4 linked regions of the Homo sapiens genome follow. The protein of the gene in region 2 purifies or fractionates together with the protein of the main gene of each other region. This does not show direct contact. Each region holds a gene or a part of one and is shown on either strand. Other genes may lie near its edges.

Region 1 (5,798 bases), on a different chromosome or scaffold from region 2:
AGAAGTGGGTCTGTGACTTCAGGAAAATGTCTGACAGTATCTGTTGCCAAAGAAAATGTGAGTTTTCAAGCCAACAATAGAAATCTAGAAAACTTGTATTCACCTCCATGGGCTTGATGACCTCTTAGTACTTAGACCTTTCTGACGAGATAAGCGGTGGCATTAACAAATGTGATGTTTTTCATGTTATCTAAATACATTTGTCAACATTTGGAAGATCTGCACAACTCCCTGGACCAGGATTTTCCAAATGATTGTTGCTTTTTGTTACAAAATCAGGGAATAGATAGAAGATTCATTCAAATAATGAAAGATAGACTGATGGATTTTTATGTAACAGAATAGGAAAAGTTTATGACATGTTTTCAGATTCCACCTTGCAACTAATTTTTAAGAAGCTACCACTTGTCAGCCAGGCACAGTGGCTCACGCCTATAATCCCAACACTTTGGGAGTCCAAGGTGGGCAGATCACTTGAGGTCAGGAGTTCAAGCCTGGCCAACATGGTGAAAGACTTCTCTACTAAAACTACAAAAATTAGCTGGGCATGGTGGTGGGTACCTGTAATCCCAGCTACTCTGGAGGCTGAGGCAGGAGAATTGCCTGAGCCTGGGAGGCAGAGGTTGCAGTGAGCCAAGATCGCGCCACTGCACACCAGCCTGGGCAACAAGTGCGAAACTCTGTCTCAAAAAAAAAAAAAGAAAGAAAAGAAACTATCACTTATCAAGTTTGGGTGTAGTATCAAAGAAGATCAAGAGTTACCTGAAAAGAGTATTGCAGTAACTTCTCTCGTTTCCAAGTACGTGGAAAATCTATATGTAAGCTGGATTTTTTAATGTATACTTTAACCAGAGCAGGTTGGGACAGCAGACTTAATACAGAAGCAGATACAAGTCCAGCTGTCTTCCATTAAACCAGACATTAAAGAGTTTTCTAAAAAATGTAAACAGTGCCACTCTTCTCACTAACATTTTTTTGTTTTCAAAAAGTCTTTATTTCCCATTAAAAATACAGGTTTCTTATGTTAGCCTGTCACAGGCTTATTGTTATTTCAAGTGAATAAAAAAATAAAGTTTTGCTTAATTTTTAATTTTAATTTTTGATACAGTATCAATAGATAAAACCTACATTGGGATCTTCAGCATTTGGGAGTGTGAAGGGGGCCCTAAGTCTAAAATATTTTTGAACCACTGCTTCATTCTAACTCAGTCACAAAATGGAATTAGGGGAAATCATACAGGGTTTGTTGTGGGGCAGCTACTAATACTCTCACCTCAGCAAGAGCAGTCCCTGCTGTAAGGGACTAGGAAGCTTGCCTACAGGAAGACAGCCAGGACATCTCCTAAAATGTATCAATGCTTTCGACGAGAAATATATGAGTGGATTTAGTGCCCATCTTCTGGAGAGACTTTTTAAACTGTTTTTAAACTGGTACATTTTCATTAGGTTGCTTCTGTTCATGTTTATTTCTTGTGTGGCCTCTTTTCAAGGGAGTGATCTGTTTCCATCTGAGAATCTTCAATATCATCTAGTAACTCTTAATATTTAGGAAACTACAACCCAGAGAGGGGAAGTAACCCAGCAAGTTAGGGTCACAGCTGGAGTTAGAGCCTGGTGTTTGGCCTTCAATTGTGTCCTATTAAGGATTTGTGTCTCTGGAGCCTGTGTTACTCATCTTTTGTTATCACCTATCTCTACCAAAGATATTTAAAGGTTCCCGTGAGAAGGAAAGATTTCAAGAGGAAAGAACATAGCTCTTTTATTTGGAAGCACTTGTTCCAGAGTGGCCTTCAGGAGACACCTTCACCTTCTCTAATGTGTTTCCCGCAGAGCCCTCCATGAATCTAGTGATTTTTTTTCCAGATTATAGAAAACTTTAGGAAATATAGAGAAAAGTAGAAAAAAGAAAATGAATATCACTTATCATCCTTCCATCTAATGGAGGATGGGAATTTTTGGTGGGAGGCGTGGGAATTTTGCAGAGACCTGCATAACACACACTTTTTTCCCTCAAATTGTTAATCATACTGCATATACAGGTTTGTGTCTTGCTTTATTTTATTCAACATTATGTTGTGAACCTTTCCTATGACACTAAAAATTCTGAAACTTTTGTTTGGTATACATGAAACATACTTGTAACATATACATTCCATTATACTTCATAATCTATTTAACTGTTGTTTTGTTGGAAACGTATTTACAATGAGAGTGCATTTATCAAATGCACATTTGTGTTTCTCCCAACTTAAAATCATTGCCACCCAACCCCTGCTAGAACAGATCCCATGTTTTTCACATGGCCACAAGATCCTCTCTGCAGCCCACCTCACCCTCACCCCCATCTGTTTCCCACCTATTCCTTTACGCTCCTTTTTGGGAAGCCTCGAGTCCATTTTTACCAACACTCATTTTCCCCACCTTGAGTGTCTTCTGTCCTTCTCCCCATTCCCTTTCTGCTCTTATCCATCATTATTATTTTTTTATTATTATTATTATTTTTGAGATGGAGTCTCACTTTATCACCCAGCTGTAGTGCAGCAGTGGCTTGATCTTGGCTCAGTGCAACCTCTGCCACCCAGGTTCAAGCGATTCTCCTGCCTCAGCCTCCTGAGTAGCTGAGATTACAGGCATCTGCCACCATGCCCACCTAATTTTTTTTTTTTTTTTTTGGTGTGTGTGGTTTTAGTAGAGACGGGCTTTCACCATCTTGGCCAGGCTGCTCTTGAACTCCTGACCTCGTGATCCACCCACCTCAGCCTCCCAAAGTGCTGGGTTTACAGGCTTCAGCCACTGCACCCAGCGCTCCTATCTATTCTTAAGACCCAACTTACCTATAATTTCCTCTCTGGAGCCTTTCCGAACCTCCTTCCACCAGACCAAGTTTCTTCTCCTCTAGAACATTTTATAGGTGTGACCATTTTAGTACTTTTCCATAATTTCACTTGTGTTTCCAAACACAATAGTAACGCTGTTCATTATCTTATATTGAAACAGTCCATTTTTGCATGTAGAGCAGAAAGTAGAAGTTCAGCTCTCCTTCATTTATCTCACTCCTTTCCCCCCTTTATCCCACTTCTTTCCACATGTAAGCACTATTAGGATTTTATTGTGTTTGTATTTATCTCCCCTTCCAGATTGTGAGCCCCGGGCTAGGGTTTTCTGTGCTGGAGTATCTAACGGGGCCCAGGGCCTTTCTGAGAGGGATGAGCTCCTGGAGAGTGGGAGGTATAGGGAGGGATGATGAGAGGAGATCTCATGACTCTGCACCCTGGTAACCTCCCCGATTTCTGTCCTTTCACTGGTGCCATTTCTAAGGATTTATGAGCAGCTTCCAGAAGTACAGAAAAAGAGAGAAGAAGAGAAGAGAAAATCAGAATATAAGTCATACCGGCTGCGAGCCCAGCTATATAAAAAGGTCAGTGGGTCCTCTGTCTAGAGTGGGATGGATCAGGTTTATTGGCGGAAAGAGAAATGGAGAAAACACGTTGCCTGTTGAGTGTGAAGTCAGAATGAACCGCATTTGAGGAATGAACTTAGAATGCACTGGACCAGTGTTGAAATTTGGAAGAAGGCATCTGTAATTAGACTTCAAATCAGGTTTAACTCCCCATCCATAATGGTGTAAGGCCCTTTCCATGCATTCGTTTGCAGTGAAACCAAATTTCACACACAGGAGTTCATTGACATATCATGGTAGAAATACCAGAATTATCAGGTTTCCATTCCAGAGTCCCAGGTGGTGATTTCATGCCCCTCATTGGTGAGTCAGATACCTTTAGAACTGTTAAACTGGAAAATGTGTAACTGCGGCATAAGAGTTGTCCACTTGGATGGTCAGAGGCCTCCAACTTGTCACCATGCCCTGCCCATTGTCCCAGTAGAGTCAGCGTTGCTGCAAGTCCAAGAACCTCACGGGGCAGGGTTGGTGTTACCAGTTAATTCTCTGAGAAACCAGACCGGCTCCTATGCCTGAAGGGCCATATACTTCACTGTAGTTGTTTCCTTCTCACCCTGTCAGTCACCAGACTGATGTGGGATGGGAGCTGCTTCTGGAGCAGGCCCCAGAACCCAGGCGGGTGCCTCAGGTGGAGGCCCCAGGCACCACACCACCTGTCTGGTGTGTCAGCATCGCAGGGCCAGGCCTCTCCTTATGCTACTGTATGTGGGAACTGATGGATTATCTGTGTCTCTATAGAAATAATAGATATTGATTACAGATCCTCTTTCCTGAACCTTTCGTGAAGTATTTTTTATATGACGACCATAGTTTCTGAAGCAGAGTAAAATGAACAAGATTTGAATAGGACCACACTGATTCTCCTTGGTGACATGGATGCAGGGAGGAGAGGCATCTGCCTCTGATGGCAGTAATATCTAACTTCTTTCCTGCCTTTCTTTTCTTCTACAGAGAGTGACCAATCAACTTCTGGGGAGAAAAGTTCCCTGGGACTGACACAAGTTTATTTTCCTCAGAGCCTTGGAATTCTATTTTATGAACCTAGAGAAGCAGAATCCTTACTTTTGTGAGTCTGGTTGAATAAAGCTTATTCTTTGTCCATGTGTATTTTAGAAATAGTAACTTCTAAAGAGTCTGGAACAAAGTGGTGATTAAAATTCCTAATGGTTTGGGAGCAATACTTTCTGCATAGTGGCCTTGTCCAATGGCCTGTGTGTTACAATGATATGATCATTTCTCAAGAATAAGTCCCTTTTTGTATGTGTTTTTATACTTTTAGAAAATAAAAACTTTAGATTAACTCATAGTAAACAATTCTTTCCCATCTGGAGAGATGCAAGGAGCTATGCATTGTCTCCACCGAGGTGTCTAAATGCATCAGTTGAGGGAAATGGGCTCTTAGAAGGAAATGTAGCCTGTATCTTTAGAAACACAATGTGCTGTAGTGGGAGCACTGTTGTGGGCTTTGAGGAGACGGTGTCTGGTTAGATGCCCACCGGGTGCACCCAGAGACTGCAGCAGGAGAGGTGTCTTGGGTCCAGAGCCTCCTTTCAGCCCCAGTCCAGCTCCCCCAGGGACTCTCTGTGTAGGCTGGGGAGAAAGGCCACTAGCCTTGGCTGATGGATCTTCCTCCACCCACACTCGGTTTTGGGATTAAAGCCTCAGACCATTTATCATTACACGTGAAACCAACACTTACAACATAAAGGACAACTTGTGAAAAAGATGAGTCAATGAATGAGATAAAGCATTTAACCCAGTAACTGGATCAGAATGTAACAGGATTTTTTTTTTTTTTTTCATGTGGCCTGGAATTATAGCTAAGGCCCAAAGTAATGGAGGAAGGTTTTCAACAGCCTCACTCTAAGTTCAGCAAACCCCAGTACAAAGATTGGCAAGGGCCAGTCATCCACCGAGAAGGCTTCCTGGGAGGCTGGATCCAAGAGCAGGCCCTGCCCTCAAGCACGGTTCAGAGCTTTCAGATCCTGCCCCCTGGGCTCCCTGCCATGAAGAGGACACTGGGAAAAGAACCCATGGTGCATGAGGTCAACTCATAGTTCTTCCCTTTCTTGCTGGGCAAGGTAATGAAGCACTTTTGGCCAATTTACCTGTAAAATGAGAGGGTTAATACCTCTAAGCCCCTCTTTACATAAACTCTAAAACAATGTGACTATTTCCACCTCTTGTGAGACATTATTATTCAGAATAGAAACAAATTGTTGTCTCAAACCTGGGTCTGCAAAGAACCCAGGGCAAGATGGAGTCTGATGAGGAATGATGAGCATGATTCTCTCTAGGCCCAAGGCTGTGGCATCCAGACACCTTCCAAGGGCAGTTA
Region 2 (8,217 bases):
CTGTATAACCTTGGGCAAATGACTTAAGTTCACTGCATCTCAGTTTCCCCATCTGTGAAATGGGGACAACAGTAACTGCTTCCTCAGGGTGGTGTGAGAATTGAACCAGATGGAAGCTCTTAGCTGGATTGCTGGCACCTGTTAAGTCCTTAATATATGTTATATTCAAACAGAGCTTTGTCTTGTTTCTTTCACGTACTACTTTTCTAGTTTTTTTCGTTGTTGTTTTATTTTTGGTTTTTAAAATTCTTCCAAAAAGATTCACAAGTGCAGAGAGAGGAATAAATACAGATTAGGATTTTATTTATTTATTTATTTATTATTATTATACTGTAAGTTTTAGGGTACATGTGCACAATGTGCAGGTTAGTTACATATGTATACATGTGCCATGCTGGTGCGCTGCACCCACTAACTCGTCATCTAGCATTAGGTATATCTCCCAATGCTATCCCTCCCCCCTCCCCCCACCCCACTACAGTCCCCAGAGTGTGATGTTCCCCTTCCTGTGTTCATGTGTTCTCATTGTTCAATTCCCACCTATGAGTGAGAATATGCGGTGTTGGGTTTTTTTGTTCTTGCGATAGTTTACTGAGAATGATGATTTCCAATTTCATCCATGTCCTTACAGAGGACATGAACTCATCATTTTTATGGCTGCATAGTATTCCATGGTGTATATGTGCCACATTTTCTTAATCCAGTCTATCATTGTTGGACATTTGGGTTGGTTCCAAGTCTTTGCTATTGTGAATAATGCCGCTATAAACATACGTGTGCATGTATCTTTATAGCAGCATGATTTATAGTCCTTTGGGTATATACCCAGTAATGGGATGGCTGGGTCAAATGGTATTTCTAGTTCTAGATCCCTGAGGAATCGCCACACAGACTTCCACAATGGTTGAACTAGTTTACAGTCCCACCAACAGTGTAAAAGTGTTCCTATTTCTCCACATCCTCTCCGGCACCTATTGTTTCTTGACTTTTTAATGATTGCCATTCTAACTGGTGTGAGATGGTATCTCATTGTGGTTTTGATTTGCATTTCTCTGATGGCCAGTGATGGTGAGCATTTTTTCATGTGTTTTTTGGCTGCATAAATGTCTTCTTTTGAGAAGTGTCTGTTCATGTCCTTCGCCCACTTTTTGATGGGGTTGTTTGCTTTTTTCTTGTAAATTTGTTTGAGTTCATTGTAGATTCTGGATATTAGCCCTTTGTCAGATGAGTAGGTTGTGAAAATTTTCTCCCATTTTGTAGGTTGCCTGTTCACTCTGATGGTAGTTTCTTTTGCTGTGCAGAAGCTCTTGAGTTTAATTAGATCCCATTTGTCAATTTTGGCTTTTGTTGCCATTGCTTTTGGTGTTTTAGACATGAAGTCCTTGCCCATGCCTATGTCCTGAATGGTAATGCCTAGGTTTTCTTCTAGGGTTTTTATGGTTTTAGGTTTAAAGTCTTTAATGGTTTATGTTAAAGTCTTTTATGGTTTAAGTCTTTAATCCATCTTGAATTGATTTTTGTATAAGGTGTAAGGAAGGGATCCAGTTTCAGCTTTCTACCTATGGCTAGCCAGTTTTCCCAGCACCATTTATTAAATAGGGAATCCGTTCCCCATTGCTTGTTTTTCTCAGGTTTGTCAAAGATCAGATAGTTGTAGATATGCAGCATTATTTCTGAGGGCTCTGTTCTGTTCCATTGATCTATATCTCTGTTTTGGTACCAGTACCATGCTGTTTTGGTTACTGTAGCCTTGTAGTATAGCTTGAAGTCAGGTAGTGTGATGCCTCCAGCTTTGTTCTTTTGGCTTAGGACTGACTTGGTGATGCGGGCTCTGTTTTGGTTCCATATGAACTTTAAAGTAGTTTTTTCCAATTCTGTGAAGAAAGTCATTGGTAGCTTGATGGGGATGGCATTGAATCTGTAAATTACCTTGGGCAGTGTGGCCATTTTCATGATATTGATTCTTCCTACCCATGAGCATGGAATGCTCTTCCATTTGTTTGTATCCTCTTTTATTTCCTTGAGCAGTGGTTTGTAGTTCTCCTTGAAGAGGTCCTTCACATCCCTTGTAAGTTGGATTCCTAGGTATTTTATTCTCTTTGAAGCAATTGTGAATGGGAGTTCACTCATGATTTGGCTCTCTGTTTGTCTGTTGTTGGTGTATAAGAATGCAGGCCAAAATCTCCTTAAGCTGATAAGCAACTTCAGCAAAGTCTCAGGATACAAAATCAATGTACAAAAATCACAAGATTAGGATTTTTGCTATGGCATGGAGAAGCCTCTGGAACCAGGTACCTAGAGTTTCCCAGCCGGGTTTGTTTCTTTGCTAAGCTTTAGACTCGCAGGTCAGTAGAGAGAGAAACCGCTCAGCCTTGTCCCTGGGGCTGTTTGGGTTCCTCCTGCATTTTGTTCCACTTGAAATGAGGACATCTCAGAATCTGGCAGCGTGGAAATCGCCTCCAGGGGAAGTGGATGTTTATTTACCATTTTGCCTCACAGATTTCCTCTCCTGTGTAGACACTTGCCTTTTTCAAAACTGAGATGCCTGGTGGCTGGTGGGTTTGGTTGATTGATGGGAAGCAATTATTTGCCAGCCAGTGGAAGCAGGTGAGCTGATGGGCGGGGACTTGCTGAGGTGAGGTGAGGGGCCCGGGTCGGTTCTGCCTCCCCTACCCTGGGCAAGTCCTCACTCAGGTGGGAATTTGATCCTGAGAGTAGGAATGAGATAATGTCGCTCTGTGCTTTGAGGCATTTTTGATCTTCCTTAATGAGTTCTGTGAAACCCTGTCTCTAAAAAGCAGGTGAATTCATACAGGTGTGGGTTCATAGCTGCGTGAAAGAAAACCGGACTTCCCATGTATGGGTGGCAATTAAGGCTCTCCAAGGAGCTGATGCCTGGAATCCCTCCTAGTGGCTGTGGCCTCGGGCTGGGGTTAAGGCCTCCTCTGGTGCCTGCTGCATACATGGGAACAGAAAGGATTCCTGCCTGTGCACCTGGGGCATTCAAACCCACTGTCCCTCAGAGGCCCACAGCCCAAGGCTCGCAAGTTAGAAAGCAGCAAGTTAAGCTACATCCAATCTCATGAGAATCAATTCTTTTTTCTACTCTTTGTCTTTTTCTGGATAAGCATCTCTTAAGAAATTAGGTTCAGAATCTTCTAAAAAGCCAAGCTCTACAAGGGTTTTGGAAGAATTAGAACTCAAAGGGACAGAGGGCATGGAAGCACAGAAGAAAAAATACAGGGGAGGCTGGATTAGATAGAAATAGTGGGGAAGGGCAGACCAGGGGATCAAAAGTGAAGTGGGCTGTGTTGTATTTTTCCTATTTCCAAAGAAATTGGCATTTTAGAGTAATTTACACCCAATTCTCCTCTCGTGGTGTAGAGAAGCCAAAATAATTGTTGAAAATAAATTACACCTCCCTAAAATGGAAGGGGAGGAGTTGCAAATAACAGTCACAGTCATAAGTTTACTGGGACATGGTTGTAAATAATCAGGCAGATGCAGGTCGTGAGTCTAAGTCACTGAGAACTCCTGCCCTTGGAGCACCCGGAGGCTGCACCCATCTCATGGTGAGCACGTGGTGTGGGCGCCTAAACTTCATCACAGACAGTGAGGCTCTTCATCCCAAGAGCATGTTACAGAAAGTTTTTATATCAGTAAGATTGACATTTTAAAGGGTTTCCTGAATAAAAATGGGGAAAATTATGAATTGCACTATTATGAATTCCAGCATGATAAGTTTTAAAGGGACATTTATTTCTACAAAACAGAATAAAACAGAATAAAAGTTTTGTAGAAATAAATGTCCCTTTAAAACGTTACAAAGGCAGAAAGGAAAGAAAGTTCTAGAAAGCTCCTGGGAGGTTCAAATGGTTTCACAGAACAGGGAGAGATGAACACTTGCTCAGAGAATGTGACATGTTCCAGAGAGCAAGTGCTGCGTGAACTGAACCCCTGGCCTGTGGCTGCTCTGGTAGGAGAGGGAGATGGAACTGGCTGCTGAGGGGTCTCGTGAGGGCGCCTGCCTGCCTGCAAGTGGGGGGATATGCAGCCACAGCAGCTCTTTCCATTTTCTTCTAATTTAATGTATTTTCAACTTGATTCTTGTGTCTCTGCCCTCCCCCACCCCAAAAGGAAGGAATAAACTGTATTTGTGTCTAGATTTTGTCTCCTTTAGTTTTAATAAATAAGCAACTAGCAAAAGTGAAGTAAATAATTTCCCAAATGAAATAAATGTGTAGGTTGTTTTCTGTTCTCCAGAAATGCTAAGCCATCTACAGTACGTATCCAGTGCTGGAAAGCTCAGGAGACTTCCAGAATTCTGCACTGCCAAATTAACACTTAGGTTAAATGAGATGACACCCCTTCTTTTATAAACAGAGTACCCATCCGTTAATTTCAGATGCTAATGTCAGAAAAGTTGGTATGTTTGAGTCTTTTACCCTTCAAAACCATTTTGGGGGAAATTTTAACACACTGAGAGAGAAGAACTATTTGAAGCAAATAAATTGCAACCCAATGATTTTAGGCTTTCAAATCAGCATAGGTCAATCAAAACTAAACCCCAAAGATGATGTTTGTTTATTTTTTGCTTTTTGAGCGTATCTAGTACCGATGGTTCGTATTTTAACTTAATCATCCACGGTTTTTGTGGGGAGTGGGAAGCTGAGCTGGGGCAGGCTCTGCACGTTCTGCAGCTTCGTTTGTCCCCATGTTACCTTTGTAGGCGGACTGACCAGCTGCTGAGCCTTTAAGGGTTTGAAAGATGTGGGAAATGAGTCAGGGTCGCAGCAGTAGCCCAGCCTATGTCCTCCATGGCGCCCAGGACTAGAAACGCCTCCTCCTCCTCTTCCAGGATCCCGGCCCTGGCTTCTGACTTGACTTGCTAAGCACAGGCCGGCACCAGCCCGTTCGCCTCCCGGCAGCAGGGAGGGGAGGAATGTGAGGGAGAGTAAGTCTGCGGGGCCCAGCGGGTCGGGGCAGGCCAGTGCTGGGTGGGGGCCGTGACTGGCCTGCGCTTTCCCCTGGGCGCACCCCATTCTCGCACAGTCAGCCTAGCCCGTGCGGCTCCCTCCCTCTCCCTCCAGGATAAGCCTCTTCCTGCATCTCTTCACCAAAGTCCCAGGGCCCTCTCCTTAGAATCTGAGAAATCATGGCTCTCCAAGGCTGGGGAGCAGCAGGAGCGTGGGGAGCGTGCATGGGGGCTTGTGCAGATGAGCGCCTGGCTCCATCCACCCAAACCAGCAAGGTACAAGCCAACGTGAGCTCTCCAACCGGTGTTTCAAGTACCTGCAGCCTTGACCGTACCCAATACAGTGCTAACTGAGATCTGTGGTCTAACAGTGACATAAGTGACAGGTTTACCTGAGATCTGACATTTTTAATTCTTGGAAAATGCATTCAAACGTTGTACACAAATAACCTTGTACACCCATGGTTGGAGGAAACACTTGGTGACATTAGGACTTACTGTGATAGCCAACAAATCAGTGTGTGAACGCAGGCCAACCGGAGGGTCCCATGAGATGCACCAGCAGAGGTGGCATGCAAGGTCTGAGGGACCTGGCACTTTTTTTTTTTTTTTGAGACGGAGTCTCGCTCTGTTGCCCAGGCCGGAGTACAGTGGCGCGATCTCAGCCCACTGCAACCTCTGCCTCCCGGGTTCAAGCGATTCTTCTGCCTCAGCCTCCTGAGTAGCTGAGATTACAGGCACCTGCCACGCCACCTGACTGATTTTTGGTATTTTTAGTAGAGACGGGGTTTCACCATGTTGGCTAGGCTGCTCTTGAACTCTCAACCTCAGGTGATCTACCCGCCTTGGCCTCCCAAAGTGCTGGGATTACAGGCATGAGCTACCGGGCCCAGCCAGGACCAGCACTTTTTGGCATTCGAACCCCCAGGAGCCAGCGTGGACAGTGCGTAATGGGGAGGGTCGCTTCTCCAGTGCCAGCAGGCCCTTACACATGCCCCAGCTCTGTCTTGTCTTCACAGGGAGGGAAGAGTGTAGCTTATCTGACCCCAGGGTGAAACTCTCTGAATGCATTTCTGAGTTTGAATATAACTAAGAATGTTTTTTTCTGAGATTGTGGATTCTTGTCTTCATACAATTCCAGGTATGTTAAGCTACTGCGACAGATACAGCGAAGGCATAAAACATGTCCTACAGACTTTTGGACCCATTCCAGAGTTTTCCAGGGCCACTGCTGAGAAGGTTAACCAGGTATGTAACTTCTCTGCAACTCACTGCAGAGAAGCATGTTGGCTACCTGGAGCACTTGCTGCCCCTCACCTCTGCAGCGGGTGGGCCTGCCTCTGCAGCTGGAATCTTTACCCTTGATCTTGGTGGTTCCTCATTCATAACTTTGTTCATACTTCCATCGTGTCACCAGGACACCTTAAGGACAGGGTGACCAGTGAACTGGTAGCTCATTGTGACTTGTCTCTGAGGGACTGAGGTCTTTCAAGATTTGGAAAGCTGCTGTTCATTGAGGGTTTATTGCTTTTGTCTTTGAAAGCAGTTTCTGCACAGTTTGCATAAACAAGAGCAATAATTACACTCTTGATAAATTATTTCCTCTTTATTGTCCTTTTTTTTCCTTCTCCTTCTTGCAGGACATGTGCATGAAGGTCCCTGATGACCCGGAGCACTTAGCTGCCAGGAGGCAGTGGAGGGACGAGTGCCTCATGAGACTCGCCAAGTTGAAGAGTCAAGTGCAGCCCCAGTGAATTTCTTGTAATGCAGCTTCCACTCCTCTCATTGGAGGCCCTATTTGGGAACACTGCAAGCCCTTAATCAGCCCTCTGTGACATAGGTAGCAGCCCACGGAGATCCTAAGCTGGCTGTCTTGTGTGCAGCCTGAGTGGGGTGGTGCAGGCCGGTAGTCTGCCCGTCACTTTGGATCATAGCCCTGGGCCTGGCGGCACAGCAGCACTTGCGTTCTCGGGGCTGTCGATTTCCTGCCACCTGGGCAGATAACCTGGAGATTTTCACCTTTTCTTTTCAGCTTGATTGCATTTGACTATATTTTACAGCCAGTGATTGTAGTTTCATGTTAATATGTGGCAAAATATTTTTGTAATTATTTTCTAATCCCTTTCTGAGTACTCTGGGGCCCTGCATTTATGAGGCACCTACCTTCATTTTGCTAACGCTTATTCTGAATAAAAGTTTTTGATTCCTTAAAGACATCTTTTCTCTTTTGGTTTTTTATGAGAAACACAGCATTTGATCCTGATGACCGGCATATTTTAGGGTGACCATGACGCATAAGTCATAAGCAGATACTTTTTTCCAGGCCCTTTGTCCATCACTCAGCAGAAATCCAGAAATGTGGGCTTTTCCCAGAGTAGGTTCCATGGTACCCTGAGGCTCTATGGTCAGATGATGTTTGGGAAACATCACTGACTGCCCAGCCCTTAGACACCCCATGTCTGTAGCAAATTAAAGGCACCAAAGTTCTACACTAAAGTACCTGTTTGATCCAACACTCAATTATTGTCTTTGATGTGGTCTTTTCCTAGATCTAGTCCCAAAACACTCTGGGAGTACCATTACATGCCCCACCACCCACAAGGCCATGCACACCACAGTGGCCAGATGCCACCAGTGGGCTCCCCTGACACTTCCCAGCCTTGCAGCTTCTGGTGCCCAGCTTCGTCCAGCAGGGAGCTGCCTTTCCTTGGGGCCAGGGCTGTGGAGGTGTTGGATGCAGTGCCCCGGTCAGGAGCCGTGTGGAAGTGGTCATCGTGGCTAACCTGTGCTCACAGACTTCTGCATCACACTCATTTATTCTCACAGCATGCACTGAGTGGCTGTGATGTGCCAGGCGTCCCACAGGTGGCCCCTGCCCTTCAGAAGGTCACCATAAAAGAACATAAATTGAGAATAAAACAGGACTGGTGCTCCAGAGGAATCCAACACAGGAGAGCCTGGCCAGCTGCCTGCCCCATGTGCCCTGGAAGGTCTTGAGGAGGTGGCCAACCTGAGGGGGCTGGGGTAACAGGTGGAGTCAGCCAGCCCTTCTGGGAGAAGGAGAGCATAGGGAAGGGCTGGAGTGCTCTGGAAATGAGGAGCTGCCCACCCTGACCAAAAAGGAGCCCTGGAGGGGACCCTGAGTGGAGCCAGGTAGGGAAGAATCCAGGGGCTGTGCCAATGGCTGGGCCTTCACCTAGAGCCAAGCGTTCCTCAGGCAAGGAGTTGCCCCAATCAGGTCA
Region 3 (8,217 bases), on a different chromosome or scaffold from region 2:
TATGGGTTTATTTTTTAAAGATACACATTATAGAATTCATGTTACTCAAAGACCAGAATGTACTCTCATAGGTGAATTTAAATTAATAAACATTCCTGCAGGATTTACATGCTATGCGACAGGCTGGGTACAAGAGGCGAATCAAAAAAAGGCATCTCTAGATGAGAAGACTTACCCTCATGGAACAATTTTTTAAAAGTCTAAGGTAGCACAAGTAGGCTATAAATTTTCACCTCGATGAACAGTTTAATGCCTTGTCATGCCAAACTAAGCCTTTGCAGGAACCGGTTATAAATAAAGCTTTCGAAAGACAAAGCAAATCAGAGAGTTGGTGCAGCAGAGTGGCTCAGTATGACGAGCTTTAGATGAAGCCTGCTCATTACAGGATGAAGCAAGTTGGAAACATTTAGGGAAGGCTTTTTTAAAGTCCCATATTCTATTGCATACTTTTTTTAAAAATTGGTTTATGCTTTTTTTTTTTTTTTGAAATAGGGTCTTGCCGTATCGCCCAGGCTGCAGTGCAGTGGTGTGATCTCAGCTCATTCCAACTTCTGCCTCCCGGGCTCAAGCAATCCTCCCATCTCAGTAGCTGGGACTACAGGCAGGCACCACCAGGCCTGGCTAATTTTTATATTTTTTGTAGAGATAGGGTTTCACCACACTGCCCAGGCTGGTCTCCAACTCCTGAGCTCAAACAATCTGCCTGTCTCGGCCTCCCAAAGTGCTGGGATTACAGGCGTGAGCCACCGTGCCCGGCCTCATATACTTTCTTTTAATCTTCATTCCTTGAACCCATTAACTTACTGTTTAATGGTGTAATAGACAATTCTTGTTTTGTTTTTTAATGAAGAAAAACAAGCCATACCTTTAACCCAGGGCTTCTCAAAGTGGGGTCCCTGGCCAGTAGCATCAGTATCCCCTAAAAAATGTTAGAAATACAAATTCTACTATACCCCTGACCTAGTAAATCAGCATCTCTGGAGGTTTGGACAGTGATCTGTGCTTTAACAAGAGCTCCAAATGATTTCAATGCAAGCTAAAGTCTAAGTTAAAGTCTAAGTAGTTAAACTGTAACTGATTTAAGCTGGCCTTTTTTTTTAATTTTAATTTTTTTTTTTGAGATAAGGTTTTGCTCTGTCACCCAAGCTGGAAAGCAGTGTTGCGATCATCACTCATGGCAGCCTCGAACTCCTAGACTCAAAGCATCCTCTTGCCTCAGCCTCCTGAGTAACTGGGACTACAGGCGTGTACCACCATGCTGGAATGTTTTGTTTATTTATTTTCATTTTATTTTATTTTATTATGAGACGAAGTCTTGCTCTCTTGCCCAGGCTGGAGTGCAGTGGCACTATCTTGGCTCACTGCAACCTGCAACCTCTACCTCCCAGGTTCAAGCGATTCTCCTGCTTCAGGCTCTCAAGTAGCTGGGATTACAGGTGAGTGTCACCATGCATGGCTAATTTTTGTCTTTTTAGTAGATATGGGGTTTTGCCATGTTGGCCAGGCTGGTCTTGAACTCCTGACCTCAAGTGATCTGCCTGCCTCAGCCTCCCAAAGTGCTGGGATTACAGGTGTGAGGTATCACGCCCTGCTGTGCTGGAATACTTAAAAAAGTAGAGATGAGGTCTTACTATGTTGCCCAGGCAGGTCTTGAACTCCTGGACTCAAGAGATACTCTCACCTAGGCCTCCTGCAATGCTGGGATTACAGGCATGAACCACCATGCCAAGCTACTTTCATTACAACGGCCCAAGTAGTACGACTTGGTAGCACTTGACCTATAATTAAAACAATATACTTAAAAGAATCAACTGTCGTTGTGAGTTCTGGACTTAAAAATCTATACATACAAAGTGGTGACAGCAACTATCATAAATGGTAACTTTTTTTTATGTTGCAGCAGTAAAAAGCAAGGTACTCCTAATTTCATAGCTTGAACAGGCAAAAAAATTCTAATAAAACCATTTGTATAAGATACCGTATTTTCCTTTAAATTTAAAATTACTTTTTAATTATATCATTAAAACATATATACCTTCTCCTTGCAAATATTAAAACATTACTGATAATGATAAAGCCTTTGACCAACCTCCCCTTCCAATTCTTTCTTCCACTTAGGGTGTCTCATTGTAGAGATTTTTCTATGCATTTATACACATAAACATACAACCATCCAAACAAAATAGTATTGTTTTTTGATTTTTTTAAGCAATATCATCTTATATACATTATTCTTCAGCTTGCTTTTTTCATTCCACCATGTGTCTTGGAGCTCTTTCTAAGCCAGTACTTAAAGATTTTTTTTAAACTTCTGTATAGGCGTGGACCTACCAGAATTTATTTACACATTCTCCTACTGTTGAGATTATTTCCAATTTTTCACATTTTCACAAAATGCTGCAATGAGCATCCCTATATATGCCCTGTTGGGTTTCTGAATTGCGTTATCAACTGTAACTCAACTGTGACATAAATGTTATTGACTTGAAAGTAAATCTGGATCAGAAAAATGTTACAGCCTACCTAGAATGCACAGTATTTTTAAGAGATTTATAGCCACCAAGATCTCACTTTAAAAATGAACTTCTCTGAATCAATAATTTTGGCAACAGGGTAGCCGTATATAGAAAAGGTTCAGCTTTGAACAAAAAGGGATAAAATGCCTGGCAACACCCACATTTCTTCATAGTTCTCACTACTGAGGATGGTGATGAAAACCAGCACTGACTCAGTCTGGGCCAAGTGCCAGGCACTTTATGGCTGTTAACTAATTTAATCCTCACAACCACCTCATGAGGTAGGCAGTGCTATTATCCCAGTTTCACAGAGGAGGAAACGCAGGGCAGGGGGTTAATTCACTCAGCCAGTAGGACATAGAGGTGAGACCTGAACCCAGATGTTTTGACTCCAGAGTCTTACCCATCACAGAGGCTGATTTGAAACAAAATCTTGCTCCAAAGGGTGTTCACTAATATGTAAAAATATAACTACAAATGGAAGGTTGCTGTTTTCATTCTTTGTGAATGGCATTTTTCTTTTGTTAACCAGGGCTGGACAGCAAAGTTCATAAAAACAGTTCTTGGCAGCTCCTTAACCAAGCACAGTCTATCAAACCACTCCAGGGAGAGAAGTATACAAAATAGTCTAAAGAAAAATCTTGTTAAAAGAATAAGAAGGCCATGCGCTATGGCTCACGCCTGTAATCCCAGCACTTTGGGAGGCCGAGGTGGGCGGATCACGAGGTCAGGAGATTGAGACCATCCTGGCTAACATGGTGAAACCCTGTCTCTACTAAAAATACAAAACATTAGCCGGGTGTAGTAGCGGGCGCCTGTAGACCCAGCTACTCAGGAGGCTGAGGCAGGAGAATGGCGTGAACCTGGGAGGCGGAGCTTGCAGGAAGCTGAGATCGTACCACTGCACTCCAGCCTGGGCGACACAGCCAGACTCCATCTCAAAAAAAAAAAAAAAAAAAAAAGAATAAGAAATTGTGCTGATCTCAAGTTTAAAACTGACAGAGCATACAGCTATTTAAGAAGAGAACTAGGAAAGTTTTACCTACCGAGCCCATTCATTTTGCTACTAAACGGGAAAGGAAAGGTACTTCTACTTAAACCTCCCAGTACTGTTTTTAACAACACATGATGCTATTGCTAACCTTGACTAAATTACTCTTCATCAATGAAGAAGGCAGAACACTAAAGGTGACATTTTGAAGATGGAAATGAAACTTTCCATCTGTGATTCTATCATCATATTTGTCATTTTGGCCAACCTCATTGTTAGGGTGCATTTAAATAAATATGTTTAAAGCTCCATTGCATTAAAAAGATACCATAAAAGATTTCTTTAGAAATCTTAATATTTTCATATACTTCAAGGCGAGAAACCAACATAAAGAATCAAACTTGGCCCCTTTCCACAACTGTATGTATGTGTGTGTATATATATATATATATATCATATTCACTTTACACAAAAACAATCTCAAACACAGGTGCAGCTACTTTCACATCTGTAATGGTAAGACCATCAGTGACAGAGCATAACAATGTAAACCAGGCCAACTGGCTACTGCGATAGGTGGAATAGGGAAAGAAATGTGAAGGGTAAAAGAAATGTTGCAAATGGAAGAAGTGAATAAAAGCAAATGATTGGGAAAAAGAAGGTAAAAAACAAAGAGTGTCAGAAAGGGAAGAAACCAGCCCAGGTCAACTCCTGCAGGATAGCTGGACCAGAGGAGCATCTGGAAAAATCCAGACTGAAGGGATCTTATCTCCCATTTAACAGAAACTGACAGAACTTAGCTCTGGCTTGGACTGAAAACAGAGGCAGGACGAAATTAGAAAACACTTAAGTGAAGGACCTGGACAAACATCTTAGGCCTGAGGAAACATCTCAAGAAGGGTTCTCCCAAATTGGATAAAACTTGGCTTTGTAATTAAACATGCACCTGTGATTTACAGGTATTGAAACTCCTCTGGCTAGACTAAGGAAGTTATTTGCATTCTACAACTTAAATGAATGAGACAGCCAATGAAGAATGGTTAAGAAGCACAAGGGGCAGAATCTCACTCCCAAAGCTGTTTTTGAATAAGGAGCCTCGTCTTTGACCCTTTAGGAACCAGAGCAAAGGTCAGTATTTGGAATACCTAGGGCATTTCTCACCATAACCATCTCTATTGACTTCCAAGAGTATCCCATCAGTCCCCCAAAAGGAGTTTGAAAATCAAGTGTGAATTCCAAGTGAATTTCAGAGAATGTGGTAGTTAAGAGAATCACCAACCTACATGAGAAAACAGAACATATGAGACTAGGACAGGATTGGGAGAGCAAAGAATGAAGTCCTGTTCCTCACTTCTCAGCTTCCACATCACTTAGATGTCTGGCACACTCCAGCACAATCAAAAGTACAGGAGTAAAGTGCTATTAGAGAGAATCTCAGTGATACTCACTTCTTTAGAAAATCTTGAAAGTCAGCTGGTAAGTCACTAGGGATGGTCACAGGGTACTCTCCACATTCCTGTCCTTGGCTGAGGGACAGCAGCAGAAGGCCAAGACGCCAAACATCTCCTTTCTTCCCCGTTTTATAAGGCAGAGCATTGTCACTAAAACGAACTCGGGTTTGCTCAAACACATCCTCCTTGCAAATGTCTGCGAGGCGCTTAGAAATGCTATAGTCCGTAATCTTGACGGTGCCTTCTGCATCCACCAAGACATTAGATGCACTCAGGACCTTATGCACCACAGAATTGCTGTGCAGATAATCAAGGCCTGACAGGAGCTGAGCTGTGTACCTGCGAAGCTGATGCACAGGGATGGGGCCTGAGTGGCTCAGGTGTGCAGCAAGAGAGACCCCACTAATGTGCTCCACTAAAATGTCCACCACGATGGAGTCGTCTTGCTCTTTGAGATTCATTGCAAGGTAGCGTACTACATTTGGATGGCTCAATTTTACCAGTGAGTTGAATTCTGTTTCTGTTCCTTGAATCTGATAAGTTAAAAAAAAAAAAAAAGAATATTGGGCCAGTCAACATTAACTTGGGTTTCATTTCAAAAGTGAAGTATTTGATCATACAAGATGGGGGCATAAAAAAACAAAACCAAAACCAAAAGTGAAGTATTTGATAGAAAATATACTTTCAAATGAGAGGAGAACAAATATGCCCTAAACTGAATCCTCCCCAAACCATATGGTCAATCTAATAGTTCATAAAGATGGAAAAAATTTAGCTAATTCTCAACTTCTCTAATCTCAAAACCTACTATGCATATACTACAAAATTAGTGAACAGTTTTTAAAATAAAATTCTTTTGAGGTATAGCCACTAGAAAAAACAAACTTTAATTTAAAAATAACCTTTTCTGATTAGCTTTGTATTTGGGTTTTTAAAAATATAGTATATGATTTGAGCAGCAGAATAATGGCCACATCCTAATCCTCAGAACCTCACATGGCAAAGAGGAGTTAAGGTTGAAGACAGAAAAAAAAAATCTTTTCTGATTTAATAAAGATCATTGTCAACATTTAAAAAATTAGTTTGATAGAAAATACCCACATGTTATCTATGTGGTCACCACCCAGTGATAACTCAAGATTTTGGCACATTTACTTTCAGTTTTCTTTCTATACTTAAATACACACACATTTCTGAACACCATGCTTTATCTACGTTTTTGTAAACCTTGTTATTATGTAACACTGCAATATGCAATACTGAATGTTCTCCTTATGCTTGGTTATAAATCATAATTTATAAATTAACTTAAAAATCCTCCGGTCCCCCAAAATTCAGTTTTGAAGCAGTATTTTTCTTTTCTTTTTTTTTTTTTGGAGACAGGGTCTTGCTCTATCACCCAGGTTGCAGTTCAGTGGCATGAACACAGCTCACTGCAGCCTCAACCTCCTGGGCTCAAGCAATTATCCCACCTCAGCCTCCCGGGCTCAAGCAATTATCCCACCTCAGCCTCCCAAGCAGCTGGGACCACAAGTATGTGCCACCATGCCCACAGATTTTTAAATTTTTTGTAGAGACAGGGTTTCACCATGTTGCCCAGACTGGTCTCAACCTCCTGGGCTCAAGTAGTCCTCCTACCTTGGCCTCCCAAAGTGCTGGGATTACAGGTATGAGTCACTACACCCAGCCCTGAAGCAATATTTCAAGAGTAGGGAAAAGAAGAATTGCAAAAAAACCCAATTATGAACTAGTATTTAGTCCCAGTTGGAAAGATGACTGTTAATGCCATACTAAGGGCTAAGAAAGGAGGTTAAGAAGGCAGCTGGAAGTGCTTTGATCATGTTGTGAAAGTTCTGAAACCAGAGGCAAGGGGCAAAGAGGTACTGGTCCTTCACTGTCCTCCCTGGTCAAACAGTTCTCATACTGCTCTGGACCATCTCTGCAGGGCAAACAAATGCAGGGCTATTTTGTTCTGTCATCTCCTAAAGCCTGAGATTAGGCCTTTTGCTCAGTCAGCCACCTTGGATGCTTACCTGCTTTTTGCACTTATCAATCTTCTCTTTTTCTTGACTGGTAAGGAATGGACCCATTTTTTTCTGCCACTGAAGGACCCACTCATACAACAAGACAAAGCCACCAGTGGCTGTTTCCAAAGCATTGTAGACTAATTTTCCAAGTTGTTCATCACTGCCTGCACATTAAACAGAAAGTGTAATTAAATCCCACTGGTATGTTTTCTCTTGGGGGAAGGAAGGGAGGGGGTAATACACATTCTTTAGTTCAACAATGGATACCATGCGCTAACTATGGAAAATAGGACTTTATGTAATAATGTCCTTTTGTAAACAATTTTTGATATTTAGCAATATACCTGAGTCCTAAAATAATTTTTTATAAGGGGCAAGAATCTACAATGAGATCTTAGTATCAGGCAAATAAAGAGACCAATGTTTGGCCAGGCGTGGTGGCTCACGCCTGTAATCCCAGCATTTTGGAAGGCCAAGGCAGATGGATCACCTGAGGTCAGGAGTTCGAGACCAGCCTGGACAACATGGTGAAACCCCGTCGCTACTAAAAATACAAAAAAATTAGCCAGGTTTGGTGGCGGGCACTTGGAGTCTCAGCTACTTGGGAGGCTGAGGCAGGAGAATCGCTTGAACCTGGGAGGCGGAGGTTGCAGTGAGCCTACAACGCACCATTGCACTCCAGCCTGGGCGACAAGAGCAAGACTCTGTCTCAAAAAACAAAAGAGGCCAGTGTTTTATGCTACTAGCCATTATGCACAATGTTATTTTCATAACGAGTCTACCTTTGCTGACTGTGTCTACTGGTGTACACTCATACAGCTAAATACCAACTAAAATGACAGAAAGAATATGAAAATAGAGAACAAGCCATCGAGATCATTATAGATTAGTGTGCACAGTAAAACAGTAATTTGAAAATCTGAATACATCAATGACTTTCTAAGTGCAAAATTTGAATATGCTCAGTAAATACAAACTGGTCAATGCTTTGGAAGGAAAGAACAAGAGATGACAGTTTAGATTTGAAGCTAGAAAATGAGACACATTTATTTAGTGATAGTCATATGGTTCTCACTTACACAGGGAGAGCTAAATTTCTGTAACACCAAAAATTTTCTTATAAAAATCTCTATTTTCATTAAAACCATAATAGAAAATTCTAAAAAATTGGAAAAGGAGAAAAAAATCACCACTTGTTTTATTTTTCTTTTAGTTCCCTCTATTCTCCTTTA
Region 4 (8,217 bases), on a different chromosome or scaffold from region 2:
GAGACAGGTCAGTGGTTGTTGTTACTATGGATAGTAATAAAATACTAGATATATATAAAACGAAATACTGTGGGTAGATGTATTCATACGTGAATGAATGATGAATAAAGATTGGTTTTCTGGTTTTTGGCCCATTACAGATTTGAGACAACCTATTAGGATAAGGGATGTAGGGGTTCTATAGACCATCAATCCTGATGGCTGCTAGATATACCAGCTGATAGCCCAGAATGAAAACAAAACAAAAAACTAAACAAAAAAAAAAAAGACAGTAGAACTAAAAAAATCCTAGATGTCAAAGATTAGTCCTCCACATCCAAATCAGCCATTGTCTCCCGGTCTGCTCCTTTGCTTCTATTTTAACCTTCACATAGCAGCAGGAACTCTGTTTTTTTAAGACCTGCTGCTGTGATCCTGTTACTCTACTTCTCATAAACCTAGAGTGATTCCCAATTACTTTCCATGTCAAGTCGTGCATTTTGCTAGAGGGTCCTCCTGACCCTCCTCCCCATCAGGCTTGCAACATTTAAATTTATACTTTTAGGTTGAGCTGAAAACTCTATTTTTCTACCCGAAGATCCTTCCCAAATGCTCCCTTATTCTATGAACTCCCTAGTTTTCTCCTTTAAATGCACAGCTCCAGGTTCATCTCAACCAGGATGTCTTATTAGGCTAGCCCACTGTATTCCAATCAGGCTAGCATCTGCTGTAACTCTCCATTCATGCCAGCTAGTATTTACTGAGTACTTGCTATAGGCCACATGTCCACATGTCTTTATAGGTGTTATCATGTTTAATCTCTACAACATGTGAGGTTGGAATTTTCATCTCATTTAAAGATGAAGAAATTGAGATTTAATGAGGTGACATAAGTTACCTAAGATTACAAAATGAGTAAGTGGGGCTGGGTCAGATGATGCAGGAATTGGAGAGGCACTGTGGGACATTGGTTTACAGTGAGGTGGGTGCAGGGTTGTCAGAGGACAATTTGCAGGATTCCTCTGTATCTCTGCAATGGAATCTGACAGTGTGTCTTCTGACAGTGTATCTCTTTTATAAAAAGAGGCAGGTGGAGAGAGAACCATCCTACAGTAGAATAGACTGCCTGCAAATGAGTGAGCTCCCAGCCCTGGAGTGTTCAAGCAGGGGCTAGATGGCCATCTATAAGGAATTCTTGCCCTGATGGGCCAGATGGACTGCATGACAAGGTCTAGAGTCCTTTCCAATTCTGAGTTTCTGGTGATTTCATAATTATATTTATTACATGTCTAGGACAGTGCCATGCACTGTGGGTCCACAAATATGTAGAACATGGCCATTGCTTTCAAATTGTGTATGACTATAATTAAAGGGGCAAGGCAAGATAATATCTAACACAATGTAAAGAAGACTGTATAAGTCAGAGCTAAACTGAAATGTACAGATTCTAAGTACATTAAGAGTTTAGATTGGGGCAAATCAGACATATATGATATATTTTAGGAAGGCAAATTTCAAGATATTCAGAGAAAATGAATTTTTATATCTAAGAGGAAGAATGTTCAGGCTTGGCTCAAATGAGACATTCAGAAATGATTTTGTGATAATTCAACCCAAAATGACCCTTATGAAGAAGAGGTCACACAGGAATCACTTTGATGAGCTCATATGTGTACAAGGCAGAAAGGAAGCCACATACCAAGGATGACTTTAGATGAGAGGTGCAGACACTGCTCCAACATCTAATAATCCACCATAGCAATCCACAAGTGTCAGGCGCTTTGGATAGACTGGCTTGTGCACCCCGTGAGTAGGAGGCTACCTCTCTATCCTTGTTTTGTAGGTGAGAATGAAAGCTCAGATAGGAGATCAGCTTTTCTGGCCCCACGTCCCCCCTACTTTTTATTCCGCCATGCTGCTTCTCAAAATGTGAAATGTGCCAAGGCTCAGAGGAAGAAAGCGTAAGAAACAAGGAAGGCCCAGGTCTGTTACCACATAATGGTGAGGAAGCTGAAAAACTCAGGGCTTCAGTTTGCCCAGCTGGAAAGAGTGTGATAATCATCCTTGTTCCAGCTTCTTTATCAGCCAGCTCTGTGACTAGGAGCAAACAACTTGCCTCTCTGTACTTTAGTTTCCTCATTGGTAAAATCGGGGCAGTGGTGCCTGTCCTGTCTACTACATTATGTTTTCGTAAGGATCAAATAAGATAATGTAAGTTTACACTCTTTTTTTTTTTTGAGACAGAGTCTCGCTCTGTTGCCAGGCTGGAGTGCAGTGGCGCAATCTCGGCTCACTGCAAGCTCCGCCTCCCAGGTTCAAGCCATTCTCCTGCCTCAGCCTCCCGAGTAGGTGGGACTACAGGTGTGCACCACCACGCCCAGCTAATTTCTGTATTTTTAGTAGAGATACAGTTTCACCATGTTGGCCAGGATGGTCTCCATCTCTTGACCTCGTGATCTGCCTGCCTCGGCCTCCCAAAATGCTAAGATTATAGGCGTGAGCCACCATGTCTGGCCAAGTTTACACTCTTTAACAATTCTTAAATATTGAATAACTGTGAAGAGTTTTTATTAAAGGAAGCGTCAGGTCAACAGAGCCATATTAAAAGCTTTCTGAATTCTTCATGTAATGCCTTAAGTAGGTAATAATACCTTTTTTTGACATATGCCAACAATGATAATGGCAGCCACATAGCATAATGGTTAAAACATGGGCTTCAGGCCAGATTGCCTGGGTTTGAGGCCGGATGCAGTGGCTCACACTTAAAATCCCAGCACTTTGGGAGGCTGAGGCAGATGGATCACTTGAGGTCAGGAGTTCGAGACCAGCCTGGCCAACATGGTAAAACCCTGTCTTTACCAAAAATACAAAAATGACCTGGGTGTGGTGGCAGGCACCTGTCATCCCAGCTACTCAGGAGGCTAAGGCAGGAGAATCGATTGAAACTGGGAGGCAGAGGTTGCTGTGAGCCAAGATCCTGCTACTGCACTCCAGCCTGGGTGACAGAGCAAGACTCCACCTCAAAAAAAACAAAAACAAAAACAAAAAAACAGATTGCCTTGGTTTGAATCCTGGCTCCATTTCCATTCAGTAGCACTTTATTTTCAGGCAAGTTATTTAACTTCTCTGTACCATAGTTTTCTCATCTGTGAAACAGGTATACAGTTGTTTTGAGGTTAACATGAGTTAATACATGTAAAGCATTTAAGCTGTACCTGGCATACACAATAATAAATGTGTTCAATAAATGTTAGTCACTGTTATTAAAGTATGAAGGATAACAGATTTGACATACTTGGCAGTAATTCAAGGGAGCAGAAGGCAGCATAGCGCGTTAATTACAAGCACAGACTCTAGAGTCAGACCTGAGTTGAAATCCTGGCCCTTGCACTTGCTAGTTGTGTGACATCAGGCAAACTACTTGACCTCTCTGAGCCATGGTATCCTCATCTACAAAACAGAGTAATAATTCCTACCTCACAGAATTATTGTGGAGATGAAATAAAATAATGCATTTTAAGAGCTCAGCAGGTGCTGTCTGGAATAAGAGTTCGAAGTACTGTCATTGAGAGTGTACTTCCAAGTTACTGACAAAAGCTTGATTTTTAGATTACTGGTATAAACCAAAAATAAAATTCAGAGGCCCCCCAACCATCTGAATGGATTTCCTTCTCAACCAGGGCTCTTTTAAAATTTAACCTGAGAGACTGTTTCAGGCCATGATGGGAAATGGGGGTCAAACATGCCTCAGTATACCTCTCTGGCATTAACATCAACACAGACTTTAAGTATGATAAGAAACATTTTACAAACTCTCCTCTCTAAAGCCTAGTACCTCAAGGCTTCCTCTGCAAACAGTAACTTGGGTTGCCACAATCCTTTATCTTAACCCAGGCATTCCTTTCTGTTGAACCTAGGTTTTTTGTTTTTTTTTTTTCTGAGACAGAGTCTCACTCTGTCGCCCAGGCTGGAGTGTAGTGGCGCGATCTCAGCTCACTGCAAGCTCCACCTTCCGGGTTCACGCCATTCTCCTGCCTCATCCTCCCGTGTAGCTGGGACTATAGGTGCCCGCCATCATGCTTGGCTAATTTTTTGTAGAGACGGGGTTTCACCGTGTTAGCCAGGATGGTCTCAGTCTCCTGACCTCATGATCCACCCACCTCGGCCTCCCAAAGTGCTGGGATTACAGGCATGAGCCACCGCGCCCGGCCGACCCTAGGTCCTTAGATAAGCTCAACCAATTGTCAGAAAAATTTTAAATCAACCTATAAGCTAGAAGCCCCCTGCTTCAAGTTGTTCCATCTTTCTGGACCAAACCAATGCATTTCTTAAATGTATTTGATTGAAGTCTCATGTTTCACTAAAATGTGTCAAACCGAGCTGCACCCTGACCACCTTGGGCACATGTTCTCAGGACCACCTGAGGGCTGTGTCATGGGCTGTGGTCACTCATATTTGGCTCAGAATAAATCTCTTCAGATATTTTACAGAGTTTGATTTTTTGTTGACACTGGCAAGTTTATCCCATGCTAAACTTTTACTATGGGTTGGGTTTTGTTTTTTTGTTGTTGTTGTTTGTTTTTTGTGTGTTTTGTTTTGAGTAACTTCAGTAGTAACCTTAACAATAGTCTGTTTTGACAGGTTTTTGACACATTCTTACTATAGTCACCTGAACCAATGAAATCCTCTGCCTGGGGCATTTGAAAAATCTTTGTAATATGGCTCTAGCCCATTTTTCTAGCCTCATTTCTCCATGTTCTAGCAACATCTTGCACATAGCCAGATGTTTCAGTCAAATTAAATTATTTTGATTACTTGTGTTGGCAAGAAGAGTCAAACTGCAAAATATTTTAAGAGATTTATTCTGAGCCTAATATGAGTGACCACAGCCAGTGACACAGCCCTCAGGAGGTCCACAGAACATGTGCCCACGGTGGTTGGGGTGCAGTTTGGGGAGGCATGAGACATCAATCAGATACATTTAAGAAATACATTGGTTTGATCCAGAAAGGCAGGACAACTCAAAGTGAGGGCTTCCAGGCTATAGGTAAATTTAAACATTTTCTGGCTGACAATTGGCTGAGTTTGTTTAAAGACCTGGGATCAACAGAAAGGAATGTCTGGGTTAAGATAAAGGATTGTGGAGACCCATGTTCTTATTTGCAGAGGAAGCCTTCGGGTACTAGGCTTCAGAAAGAATAGGTTGTAAAATGTTTCTTCTCACCCTGCAAAACAGAGTCTTGCTGTCACCCAGGCTGGAGTGCAGTGGTGCAATCTCGGCTCACTGCAACCTCTGTCTCCCGGGTTCAAGCAATTCTCCTGCCTCAGCCTCCCTAGTAGCTGGGATTACAGGCGCCCGCCACCACACCTGGCTAATTTTTGTATTTTTAGTTGAGACAGGGTTTCACCATGTTGGTCAGGCTGGCCTCAAACTCCTGACCTCGTGATCCGCCCGCCTCGGCCTCCCAAAACGCTGGGATTACAGGCATGAGCACCGCACCCAGCCTAAAATGTTTATCATACTTAAAGTCTGTGTTGATATTAATGCCGGAGAGGTACAATGAGGCATGTCAGAGGCCCACTTCCCGTCATGGCCTGAAACAGTCTCTCAGGTTAAATTTTAAAAGAGCCCTGGTTGAGGAGGAAGTCCATTCAGACGGTTGGGGGGGCTTACAATTTTATTTTTGTTTTACACTTGTTATTTCTCACTTTCATGTCTTTGCTTGTTTTATTTTCTTTGCCTGAAATGTCCTTTACCCAGTGTCCTCCTCCATGTTTCAAAAGCCCTACCTTTTTCAAATATCTTCTTCATTAATCTTTTTCTGATCCTCTCCTTGAATTAAAATGCTGTTGAAGCGGCGTCATTGTCTGGGGTAAATATCCGAGATTTGTTGTCTCAACAGCAATGGAAAACTAGGATACGGACACACCAGAGTGAGGTTACGAGTAGAAGTTTAACAGGCGAAAGAAAGAGAAGAGCTCACTGCAGCTGACAGCGTTCTCGAAAAAATGAGTTGCCACCTCTGTGGTGAAATGCAGGTTTTATAGATAAGCTTGAGGAGGTGGTGTCTGATTTACATAGGGCACAAAAGATTGATTGGATTGGTGTTTCATTTGCATAACTTTCGAAAAACTGGTTAGGGCTAGGTGTGTCATTTGCATTGGGTGCGAAAAGCTGGCCACCCCCACCCTAATCTTTTATTATGCAGTTGGGTTATTTACGTGGCCAGCGCCATGTTGCCCGTTTCTTTACTGTACACGTGGTGACAAATTAAAGGGAGGACAGAACCTCCATGTTGAACATACTTGGCCCCCAGGTAGCCTTTTTCTATTGGCACAGCTGCCGGCATTCACCAGTGCAAGCTTCCAGCTTGCCTTTTTATTTATTTATTTATTTTTTTTTTTTGAGACGGAGTCTTCCTCCGTCGCCCAGACTGGAGTGCAGTGGCATGATCTTGGCTCACTGCAACCTCTGCCTCCCAGGTTCTAGTGATTCTCCTGCCTCAGCCTCTCGAGTAGCTGGGATTACAGGCGCTCACCACCCACCACCATGCCCAGCTAATTTTTGTATTTTTGGTAGAGACAAGGTTTCACTATGTTGGCCAGGCTGGTCTCGAACTCCTGACCTCAAGTCTTCCTCCTGCCTTGGCCTCCCAGAGTGCTGGGATTACAGGCATGAGCCGCTGCGCCAGGCCTCAGCTTGCCTATCTATGTTTGCAGCTCGATTTTTCAGGCTGCTCTTTGTTAGAAAAAAATAATTTCTTGGGCTGCTTTTTATTAAAAGGGAAGTTCTGCCGAAGACTCTTTTACCTTCACTATCTGGCTAAATAATTTCTTTCTAGCTCCTGTATCACTGCGTCTTCCTCCTTCGAATCCTGTTTTCATGTGTCTCTTAAAGCCTTTATCAGAGTACTGTTCTGTATTTCATCCAATCTAATAGGTCATTGATTATAAAATACCATTGTTTTGTGTATCAATAAGAAAGCAAAAAATGCTGCCAGTTACACTGAAACATCATCAATTATAAGACACAACCTTAGAGGTGAGAAAATGTGAAAAAAAAATGTAAGCTTTAGAATTGATGACATATGGTAGTTCTTTGTGAAAGTGTCTGTTTCACACCTTCTCACTGGATAGTAATTTCCCTGAGGGGAGGGAGGGATTATGATCTGTTCATATCTGTTGGTGCCTGGCACCTAAGAGGGACTCAGTAAGTATCTGTGGATTTACTGGCCCTTAACACATTCTCTCATGTTGTCTAGCCTTTATGATATTATTAGAAGAGTTAATACCCTCAACAGTTGACCCTTTGAATAATTTCTTGTGTCTGGCTTCTGGACAAGAGGAAATCAGGACAAAGAGCTAACTACTGAGTGGATCATGATTGAATGGGCTGCTGTGGTGTGGCGGTTGAATGGAATTTGCAACAAATGCAATTCGTAGTTATTCTTTTTCTCCTCAGTACACACACAGTGTTTCTTAATGGCAATAAAGTTTACTTTCCTGGCCATTAGCAGACTTCATCATTTTGGTTCCTAATTGTCTTTTTCCCTTGTCTTCTGTTCAGTATAAATGACATCGCATTTAAGCCTGATGGAACTCAACTGATTTTGGCTGCCGGAAGCAGATTACTGGTAGGATTTTGTCTTAGTTTCCTCTTAAAGTGCTTCCCTAACCTCCCTCTTGTGAGTACTCTGAAATTTGACCCTTTTTTTTTTTTTTTGAGATTAAAAAGGCAAGGGTGGAAAAACCTTCCCTATTACTTTTTAATAGGGATGGAAATGGGCTATTTAAAACGGGCAAGTAAACTATCAGATAAGAACCTGTGAACAATACCACCTTTGGGGTCATTCATCTTTCCCTTTTTACTTTGAGACACCCATGAAAGAGTTGAAAACAATCACAATGCCTTTGAAACTGGACTGGTGTCAGTTTACATTTTGTCCCCCAGAAAAATTCAAGCAACAGGACTGACGGTGCTGTGTCCATGAAAAGTCAGATAGCCTGACCCCAACTTTTAGGCATTGGCCTATCTAAACAGTTCCATATGGATGTTGTCCTATTTTTCATATTTTCAAATAACATAAGCTCCCTCTGGAACCTATCCAGGTATATAAAAGTAATTTTCAGAGAACCCCTTATGTTTGACCAAAAAACCTTTGTATGATCTCTCTTTCTGTCTAAGTCTACTTCCTCTTCTCTGTTGTCTCTAGATACGCAGACTGATTAATCTCCATT

Evidence for each region.
Region 1: the proteins of CRYL1 (region 2) and ALMS1 purify together in Homo sapiens (affinity purification with mass spectrometry; 2 studies listed by BioGRID and IntAct, with this or other methods). This does not show direct contact.
Region 3: the proteins of CRYL1 (region 2) and EIF2AK4 purify together in Homo sapiens (affinity purification with mass spectrometry; 2 studies listed by BioGRID and IntAct, with this or other methods). This does not show direct contact.
Region 4: the proteins of CRYL1 (region 2) and IFT122 purify together in Homo sapiens (affinity purification with mass spectrometry; 2 studies listed by BioGRID and IntAct, with this or other methods). This does not show direct contact.

The regions. Positions count from the first base shown.
Region 1 is NC_000002.12:73,605,157-73,610,954, forward strand, and holds the end of ALMS1 (centrosome-associated protein ALMS1), read left to right. Parts: intron 1-3,318; coding exon 3,319-3,418; intron 3,419-4,411; coding exon 4,412-4,456; 3' UTR 4,457-4,760; downstream 4,761-5,798. UniProt on the Homo sapiens protein: Involved in PCM1-dependent intracellular transport. Required, directly or indirectly, for the localization of NCAPD2 to the proximal ends of centrioles.
Region 2 is NC_000013.11:20,402,641-20,410,857, reverse strand, and holds the end of CRYL1 (lambda-crystallin homolog), read left to right. Parts: intron 1-6,116; coding exon 6,117-6,223; intron 6,224-6,615; coding exon 6,616-6,729; 3' UTR 6,730-7,189; downstream 7,190-8,217. UniProt on the Homo sapiens protein: Has high L-gulonate 3-dehydrogenase activity. It also exhibits low dehydrogenase activity toward L-3-hydroxybutyrate (HBA) and L-threonate.
Region 3 is NC_000015.10:39,964,618-39,972,834, reverse strand, and holds part of EIF2AK4 (eIF-2-alpha kinase GCN2), read right to left. Parts: intron 7,150-8,217; coding exon 6,992-7,149; intron 5,492-6,991; coding exon 4,956-5,491; intron 1-4,955. UniProt on the Homo sapiens protein: Metabolic-stress sensing protein kinase that phosphorylates the alpha subunit of eukaryotic translation initiation factor 2 (EIF2S1/eIF-2-alpha) in response to low amino acid availability.
Region 4 is NC_000003.12:129,442,325-129,450,541, forward strand, and holds part of IFT122 (intraflagellar transport protein 122 homolog), read left to right. Parts: intron 1-7,546; coding exon 7,547-7,613; intron 7,614-8,217. UniProt on the Homo sapiens protein: As a component of the IFT complex A (IFT-A), a complex required for retrograde ciliary transport and entry into cilia of G protein-coupled receptors (GPCRs), it is required in ciliogenesis and ciliary protein trafficking.